Regions from separate parts of the Homo sapiens genome. Here regions 2 and 3 are each reported to be linked to region 1. Evidence: microRNA targets listed by miRTarBase, many of them from high-throughput screens and not tested one by one. Region 1 holds a microRNA gene; each other region holds the end of a gene's coding sequence.
What was found. The annotated mature microRNA hsa-miR-4693-5p reads AUACUGUGAAUUUCACUGUCACA and lies in region 1 at 2,460-2,482, opposite strand. An mRNA with a match to its seed (bases 2 to 7 or 8) in the 3' UTR can be bound and repressed. Matches are read on the target gene's strand: a 7mer-m8 pairs with bases 2 to 8, a 7mer-A1 pairs with bases 2 to 7 and ends in A, and an 8mer does both.

Region 1 (3,565 bases):
TTATTATTGTCTTCCTGGACCCATTGTCCAAAAAATATATTCCCAGAAAACCCAGTCAGTCACTGGTCTGAGGCATACTCAGAAGCTTTCTCTTATTGTTGGATCATTTATCCATAGCCTTTCTTCAGTGTCCACAAGTTCTTAGTGACCATCATGTTTACACTAATGTTCCATTTCTTTCTTCTGTAGGGAGTACTTAAAGACAGAGATGATGTTTTGCAAAATAATCATTTAGTTCTATAAGTAGATCAACAAGTCATAAATGCTTGTTGAAGTTCAAGGGTAGATATTTGAATTTTCCATGGTAGGAGTAAATCATGTACCTCATTAGAATCAAGAACATGGTTGTTTTGTTCCCTACATGCTGTCTTCTTGTTCTACCAGTTTATGATAATTTTGTTTTGTTTTGTTTGTTTTTGTGTAAAGTGATGTCAAAAGAAGCTATCATGATTTCTCTTTGCTATCAAGTTAAAAGGAGAAGGGTTCAAGGCTTCTGATGAGAAAATCACATCAGCCAGAGAAACTGACAGTAATCGGAACAACTCCTTTCTCAAGTAAAAAAAGCCTTAGATTTTAAAAAGAAAAAGAAATGAGAAAGAATGTATGTAAGTAGACAAAGATAATGAAACCTTTCTCAGCTGTCTCTAACTCATGGACACGTCAAGAAATTAAGAGACATTTCATGATGAGCTGGAGTATTAGGACTATATTTGCTGAATTTATTTTTTCATGGTTCAATGATGAAACAGTAAATTCCACAAATAGATTTCAAGTTTGGTCAAGCATTTTGGCTTTTGAACATTAATCTCCTGAGCAGTGAGCTCTGTACATGCCTGGGAAGGTTCAACACAACAATGACATGTGACAGCCAAACATCCAAGCACTGAGCAATTTAGATTCTCATATCACCAAATGGGATTTTGTGGGTGGAGGAGAAGGAAGGACCCGAAGTTATTTTGCTGTTATTCTGTTACAGCTCTTTCTTCTCTGTGTTGATGCTGCCAAAAGCTATGCTGGCAGCACACTGGATTTTCAGTGTTTATATTAACTCGTCTTAATCAAGGAATCCTGACTTAACCTTATTCTTTCTCACAGACACAGTTCAATGCTGCAATGGAGCCTGTGGTGAGCACTGATTCAATAGGTGGTTTGCCTCCTTAGACGCAGAATCACAGGACTAGAAGGAGTGAAAACAACACTTTATCTCTACATTGGCTTCAGGGAGGACAGTGCCCAAACCACCTCAAGTACAGAATAATTTACTCTCATTTAGAAGATCTCCAGACAGAGCTCGAATGGCTCCCTTGGCAACAAATTTTAGTTTTAACAATCTTTGTAGCTTTATCCTTCCCTCCAGATAATGCCATAACTGTGTACTCTAGATTAAACGTTTTCTCCTTTTCTGCCCACAGTGCTTTTGAAGCCAAACATGATTTCACATATAGTGTTGGGTCATCATTAAGTCACCTTTCAGAAGTCCCTCTAAATTAAGGAGTCCTCATCCTTTCCTTAAATTTTTCATGTGTCCTGACCTATGAGAATCTGTTATACGCATGTTTAATTTCTATGGAATACCTCATCATACAACTTGAAATTCTGATTGACTAGTGGTTTTTTTCCTGCATAAGTGCTACTTCATCTATGCCTCAGTAACAAACAACAACAATCACTTAATGGAAATGGTGGCAGGCAGAATTCTAAGATAGCTGCCAGATTCCTGCCGCCCCTGGTGTGCATTCCTTGATAATCACTCTCCTTTGAGTGCAGGCAGACCTGTGTGTATGATACCACTGCTATGATTACATTGCTCATCAGGCGACTGTGAGCTAGCCAAAATGGAGAATATTCTGGTGGGTCTGACCTAGCCAGGTGAGCCCGTTTCTGAGTCATAGAGATTGAAAGTGTGAGAGGGATTTGATGTGAGGGGGAATTCTCTGTTGCTGGTTTTGAGTATAAAAGGGGCCATATAATAAAGACTTGAGAGTGGTCACTAGTTGCTGAGATCCATCCCTAATTGAAGCTAGCAAGAAACACTTCTACCAACAACTTGAAGGAATTTGGAAAAGAATCCTTCCCTAGTCAAGTCTCTAGAGGGGAATGCAGCTAACTGACACCTTGATTTCAGCCTCGTGAGACCCTGAACAGAGATATCAACCACTCAGTTGCCTGGACCTCTGACAGAAATGAAAGATAATAAATGTCTGTTGTTTTAAGCCACTAAGTTTATGGAAATTTGTTACACAGCAATGGAAAACCAATATAGGCCCCTATCCATGAGTTACATTGTAGTAAACACCTTTCCTACATTATAGATATCTCATCTAACTCCTACAGCAACCCTTGAGGTAATCACTGTGTCCATTGTCAGAGCAAGAAAACTGAAGCTCGGCTTCATAAACAGAAGCAGCAAGGATTGATTCCTTAAATACTGTGAATTCCACTCTCACTTTATTTGAATTTGTGACAGTGAAATTCACAGTATTCTTTAAACATTTTACCCCCAAGCGATGCTCTTTCCTCTGAATTGCTTTGCCTGTCCTAATAATTTTATTTATACAGGCTGATGCTGGTGACTTGGGAATAGTATTTTTATCCAAACCATTTGGCTTCTTATAGGTATGAGCCACTGAGGGAGCTATTTTTTATTTAATTGTGCTTTGGAAAAATCAAACGTAGCCTTGAGTTTTAAAATTATTAAGCTTACACTTTTTCACAAAATAGAAATGGAGTAATATAGCTCTGTCCTTCCGTTTTTTAAAGCCAAAAAATGTAAGAATGGAATGTACTGGCTCACTGCTCCCACGGTGTCCTTACCAGCACAACTTACCCCATCCCTCCCTAGCCCACTCTTGAGGATACTTTCTTGCCACTGTCAGGCTTACTCCTGCCTCCTAGACTGAGGAAAGAAAAGCCTCCTGGTTTGGAGCTCATAATCAAGTCAGCCTTGCTGCAGGGCTCATTTTAAGCCAGTATCCTGGACCAGGTGAGTCTTTTTATTCATCTCTGCTTTGTATCCAAGTTCCATTTATCAGGTTACTAACTGGCCCCATCATGCATTCCTTCAGTAATTACTTTATTTTTAGCACTGCCAAGAAAGCAAGTCTTTTCCTACAAAAACACAGGATTTCCAGTGGGGTTAAATAAATGTGCCTATGTTCTCACTTGAGACAGCAAAAAGGGAAGGAGCGAAAATTGTGGAAAGAATTGAAGACAGAGGGTAGAGGGTAGGGTGCCAAGTGTGGGGGAAAACTGAATTATGAATATTAAGGAAAAATGAAAAATAATATTAAACTGAAATGGAGAGAAATAATATAAGTGAGAATAGAAAAACATAAAACAACCTTCCCCAAAACAAAGGATAAAGAAAAAAGAATTCAGGGGAAGCTGTAAATATCTAAGACATAGCAGCAAGGGCCTGGGAATACTTATAGTGTTTGAAGTTCTGAGCTTTATTTCGCTGCAGTGAGGATCTTAAAGATGCTTAAACATATGAATAAGCAACAAAGTAATGTGACCGTTCAGCTACAGGAAAGGGGTCCCAATCCAGGATCCAGACCCCAAGAGA
Region 2 (3,000 bases), not on the chromosome of region 1:
GGGTCTTGGGCCCTGGCCAGTCCGGTAGACAGGGAGGCAGAGACAGGCTTAGGTGCTCTGCTCTTTTGTGTTCTGTTTTTCATTGGAACAGGGGCCCTGCAGGGAGGCGGCGGCAAGGCAAGGCAGCTGCAGCTGTCAGGGTCTAGGGGGCGACGGTGGGCTCGGCGCCCTCCCAGTGAGGTGGTGGCGGCATGCGAGTCTCCTCGGCGCGGCGGCAGCAGTTTTCAGATTGAGGCCAAGAGACCTGTGACGTGATTGTATCTCTAAGTCAGGAGACTGAAGACTGGGCGAGTGACATTCAAGGCTAGCCCTTTGTGAGTACTATGAGGACGTCCAGCAATGTTCGAGATCCTTTCTAAGTACACTGGGGACTGGGGTACCTTCTGGGAGTCAAAGAGCTCAAGGAGAAAGGTCTTTCTAACTGCATTAGGAATAAAGAAACTCATGGATAACCTAGCCCGACGCACATTCCTGCAACAAAGGGGTCAACAAGAGACTCCCTAATTCACTTGTAGAGTGTAAAAAAGAAATACCATTAATGACATATTAATAAACAAACAGTACTTATCAACAAAAGACCTGGTCCTGCTATATTTTGAGCCAAAGCTCGTCAGTAATACCCAACCCCTTGAAACGCGTCCCTCAAGTTCCCTAAACAGCAGCAGTGAGGTACCACACATGTGTAGGGTGCACGCACAAACACACACAACACCACACACACACACACACACACACACACACACACACACACGTCAGCACCCTGGCTTTACTGTTCCTATGCACTATGGGGCCTTCATTTTCAGCCCATGTTTCCAAATCAACATCAGTCTTTCCCAGCTTCCTGCATCCAATGCAGAGGGTCAGGGCAGAGGGGTCTGTGGAAATGATGTTAAGAATCACGTGCTCTGGCACCCAGCCTCTGCTTTCAGTCCTAGCAGTTGCAGTGGGCTCTGCACTGCAATAGCAAATACGTTATTAGAATTAATCTCAAAAGAAGCATTTTCCTTATGGAAAAATCAGTTCAATTTATAGGATCTAATACAACAGTAAGAGACAATAGAAGTCCTCATGATTGCATTAAGAATTTCCATTTGGCTTAAGAATTTTACTCAGAATTTATTTAACCAGACTCCAAACCTCTAGTTACTTTTATTGGAGTAATTAGGCTCTAAAGGTGTTTTTAAAAAGGGGGCCTAGTGGTTCGCTGAGGAGGAAGAGAGACTCTAAATGTGTGTTCTTTTTAAGTGTGTTTCTAATCCTGTTTTTCTGCAATCTGCTACACCTCATAATTACTTTTTTCCTTAAACAGTGACTATTTCATCAACAGACATTCAAGGAACTACTTCAGTTTATAAAATTAAAAAAAATTGTGATATCCAGTCTCTCTAGGCTTTTCTTGGCTCTTAATCCCACATTAAACTGAGAAGTCAGAACTAAGATGGTAAAGATGCCATTTACCAGATTAACTGAGACCATGTTAGAACTGAACGGCTTAGGCAGAACTTTGAGGGGAGGAAACAAGTTGGTGCTCAATCTGAATCACCGTGTAGCCCAGAGATGAGGGTCTTGGCAGAGCCCCCATGACAACAGTGTTCCCAAGGATCTCAGCAGTAAAGATGAAAGACTTCTTCTTTATCTTCTGTGCTTCATGAACTGCCATCTCAGGCATCCCTAAATGATGCCATACATTTATCTTATTTTTGTGTCCAGATTTAAACTTGAAGAATTCCTTTGCATGGAAGCTCTGGGGTAGGGACCTTGTCGGTGGAGTCGATTAGGGAGAGCTGGAAGGAGACTGTCAGGGTGCACTCCCAATTCTACGCTGAAAGCCAGGGCAGTCGGCCTCCAGTCTGGATATGACAAGCAAAATTCCCAGCGTTTGTTAAAAGGCCATCTTCAGACTGTTCTTGCCAAGACTTGATTCCCATTTTTAGTAGGTCTCAGAACACAACTTAAAGATATATCACCTTTCGTGGTGTCAGCTGTGAAAGGGGCCCCACACAGACCATACGCACAAGAAAATAGGCTAAGGAGGAAGAACACAAAGTAACACCCCACCCCACCCCCAAATATGTTATTAACTGAAAAAAAAAATGCTACTTTCTACCAAGTAGTGGCTAGAGCGCTCTGATTTTTAAAAACTGCACCCCACACACAGGGTTTCGCCATCTCAGCAGGCTGTACAAGACATGTTTCAGTATGGCTCTTTTCTGTTCTTATTCCTTTTGTTTTGTATGAAGACTGCAATACAGGCCTTGCTTCCTTTACATTCAATACCAGTAAGATTCTACAGAAAAGCTGGAAGGGACCAAAATACTGATTGTAATAAATATTTGTGGGCCTCCTTGTACTGACTGGGCAGCCGATGAAGGGGGTGGGGAAAGGTCTCTGAGAGGCACCACCGATTGCTTCTAGGTCTACACAAGAGACAGGTACTGCCATTAGCTGTGCGTGGAGACATCGGAGGAGGAGCTGCTGTTGCTGTTGGTGGTCTGGGCCCTCTTTATGTATAAGTTTAGTAGCTTCATCTGAAAAGAGAAGATGAAACTGAATTAGCAGGAAGAAAAGCAATCAGAAAGTAGAAAACAGCAAAAAGAATCCCAGGTGACAGTAAGGAAACAGCAAGTCCCTTAGTTCCCTTGGTTGAGGAATTCATTATAAAAACATGTTCTGAGTGCCTGCTGCCCATCCAATGCATCTGCCAGGTGCTAGGGCCACAGAGGGAGGGAGGAGGCCAGAGTCCAGAGGAGAGGGAAAAGCCGTGGGCAATTACAAGACCACCACCAGGTGTCACAACTAGGTGGGCCGCAGCAGCTCATGGAGGAAGGGATACGGGGGCAGGGCCATTCATCTCAAGCACGACTGCAGCCCAAAGGCTCCATCAGAGCCAGGGAAAAAGCAGGGTGAGAACCCCGCTCCACAGGGGGGAAGTGGCTGGGCCAAGGTCAGAGGGCAAATCCTCTAACCTTCACACCTTTAGCCTCTTGAGTAGCTGGGACT
Region 3 (3,000 bases), not on the chromosome of region 1:
ATATATGCTAGTATTTCAAGTTTATCACTAATTACTAAACATCAATTTACAAATAACATGTTCAATTTTTGTTCTTTTATCCAAAGGGAAAATTCTAGGCTAAATTCTATCCAGTGTGGGGGAGGGGGACTAGAAAATAAAAAAGTTTCAAACAGTTCCATGCAAACATCACATTTTTCAAATGGAAAAACTTCCAACTGGACCAGAAGTTCATACTGCTAATGTACTTTTCATTGAAACAATTTTTAGTAAGTACAAATACATGGCATTAAGGTTCAGAACCTAATATAGGCCTGACAATCAAGTCCTTATTTTCTGGAGGAAGGCCTCAAGTCCAATAAATTTCCAGTAACAATGTTTTTACAAATCAATTTAATAATAAGGGGTTTTAATTTCCTTCATGTTTTTGTTTTTAGCATTCTAGTCTTAAGACTAGATTAGAAGTTAGCTCAATTCCCCAAAAGGCAAATGGTTTTTCTTTGCAGTATGAAAGAATCCACAAAAAAACCTCTTCCCCAAACTAATTCCTAATAACCAATCTGTGCTTAAGATGTATCTTTTTCTATACAATGTAAACGGTAACTTAGGTAAAATGTACCCATGAACATTAAAACTAGTCATTAGAAAGACTTAACTAGCTTTATAATTTAAGTTTTAAAACATAAATATTTGCAGCTTGATCTTCTGTTGACAATGATTGTCGGAGCCTAGAATTCAACATTTACAATGTCCATTCATGCACACAAAACACATACCATTATCACACAACTTACTCCTCATGTCTTAAGAGAAGAATCTTCCGCTTCTTTAAATCTTTGGCCTCCCAGTCAATGCCATGTTCAAACAACTTTTAACTCAAACTTCACTCTCAGATTTTTAACAAGCTTTCCACCCACACGTTATTAATGCTTTTCCTAATCTTTCATGTTGTACTGCCAAATCTGAAACCTGCCTCAAAGAGATCATCAGATTTTTAAAAAATGAAATATAAAGTGGTTATTTCAAAACGGAGTATGGGAGGTCAGAATTCAAGATTCCCTAATGGGATCATATTTTATTTTACTGCAATGAATGACTGCTATCAGTAAGAAAAATCCTCTATTGGATTCTTTCACACTCTTTGGCAACTGGCCAAAGAACCTACAAAAATGTTTTGGAGTACATGCCCTTTTTCATACAAAGTGCCCTCATAGGAACACCAGGATAGCTGCAATTCATTTGAGGCCTCACCTATAGAAAGAGGCTATCACACAGACAGCCAGGACACCCACCAGTTTGTGGAGATCCCTGAGAAAGTATGATTTTAAAAAATCTGGACTGTACTTGTTTCACCAGCCTTTTTCACTGTATAGGAAAGTTGCAGCTGGTCTACCAGCACTCATACTACCTTTCTTATCCTAGGTTTGCCGCGTAATAGCTATGGCTTTGGAATCTCCCAAGTGATATTCTATAAAACTTGAAGGAATAATTATATCTCCTAATTCCAGGTTTGTAGTTTCCAAATATCACTTACAGTTCTCTTTATTGTAAAGTAGCCATATGAACACCAACCATCTATGAGAAAAGGTTCTCCTCAAACATTTAACACTCTACAATTAGGAATTAGCTGTACCAAAACACATGAAAAAAAAAACTGATGGTTGGTATTTGAGATAAAAATTTGTTCGACATGCAACCTAGTGGTTTATTTATTGCAAAATCAAAACTGATAGCTGTGAATTTACTACATCCATTCGAAATAAATAAGTTATATGAAATACAGATTCTGGCATAGATATAAGATGTAAAAATCAAAATCAATAGATTGAACCTGCATATTTCATTTGCTCACAAACTTGCACACACTATTATTCTGCAAAATAGACAACTGCAGCAAAGAAAAAGAAAACTGCCCTTTTGCAAACAAGTCTAAAAGCATCCCTCCAAAGACGCCAAACAAAATAAACATGCATATATATATGTATAAAGTGTTACTGTTCAACACAAATGCTATTTCTAGGAAAAATTTAACTGCATAGGCAAAAAAACATAAACAGAAACCAAAAGAAAAAAAAAATGTGCAACATCTTAAGCCATTAAAGCACCAAAATAAAAAACACACCAAAATCACTGTTTTTATGACGATTAACATACACAAATAAAAAATATTGATCAAAACTCAGGAAGTAAATACTTGGACTGATAGACTGTCTATTGCTGGGGGAATTTTTCTTCAATTTAAATGTCTTCTCATCTCTAAAAAAAAAAATCTTAAAGTGCTAACTTTATATAAAGCAGGCAAATTCTTCAAGTAATTTGCTATTAAGTAAGCCAATTTTTTATAGATCTCAATAAAAAACGAAGAATAAACTAAAGTGAAACAGGAAGATAAGACATGGAGAAAAAAATGACAAGTTGTAGCTGGACAAAGCAATAAAATGCTGTTATACCATCTTAGCCTTCTAATTTCAATTAAACACATAAGCTAACAGATACCTGCTGGTTTAGTACACTCTCTTAGATTTACTAAAATTTACACAACAATCAACAGGTATACATAAAAAGTCCTAAGGAAAAGAATGCCACTTAAAAATCAACATCAGATACTAATTAAAGCAATCTTAAAAGGTTGTCTGCTATCATAAATGAATATAAAATGTAATATACCTTACAAACTAAGAACTGAAACCTTGTTCAAAGTTTCATTACTCCTGCCCTTGAGCTGCTTCTTCAAGATAGTACACATTAACCAAATGGCGATTGAGGTGTTTGCTGTAATCTTTTCCCTTTCTGAAAGAACGATCACAGAAGATACAAACAAAATCTCCCTTAGCCGCTTTGACTGCCAAGGCTTCCTTTGCATTTTTTCTGCTAGATTCTTGTGGAACTGGCCGAGCCCCATGCAATCCAGAATCATCACTACCCTCTGACATGTTGTCACTTAGGTCACTTCCTTCATGGCTGTGGATGCCTTCATCTTCATCAATTTCCTGAGACTCATTTGCTGCCATTGTAGCAGGA

Region 2: miRTarBase lists CLASP1 as a target of hsa-miR-4693-5p. Seed matches in the 3' UTR shown: 7mer-A1 at 767-773.
Region 3: miRTarBase lists REST as a target of hsa-miR-4693-5p. Seed matches in the 3' UTR shown: 7mer-A1 at 1,971-1,977.

The regions. Positions count from the first base shown.
Region 1 is chr11:103,848,832-103,852,396 of GRCh38, reverse strand. It overlaps MIR4693 (microRNA 4693), which reads right to left and starts at 2,491; the gene lies at 2,417-2,491. LOC102723862 (a long non-coding RNA gene) reads left to right here and starts at 2,846. Exons shown (of 4, transcript XR_001748346.2): 1 at 2,846-2,983.
Region 2 is chr2:121,338,420-121,341,419 of GRCh38, forward strand. It overlaps CLASP1 (cytoplasmic linker associated protein 1), which reads right to left. Exons shown (of 41, transcript NM_001395891.1): 41 at 1-2,528. The coding sequence ends at 2,442. Among named protein-coding and RNA genes, the nearest start is that of TFCP2L1, 55 kb to the left of the region's middle.
Region 3 is chr4:56,931,837-56,934,836 of GRCh38, reverse strand. It overlaps REST (RE1 silencing transcription factor), which reads right to left. Exons shown (of 4, transcript NM_005612.5): 4 at 1-3,000. The coding sequence ends at 2,685. Among named protein-coding and RNA genes, the nearest start is that of REST, 25 kb to the right of the region's middle.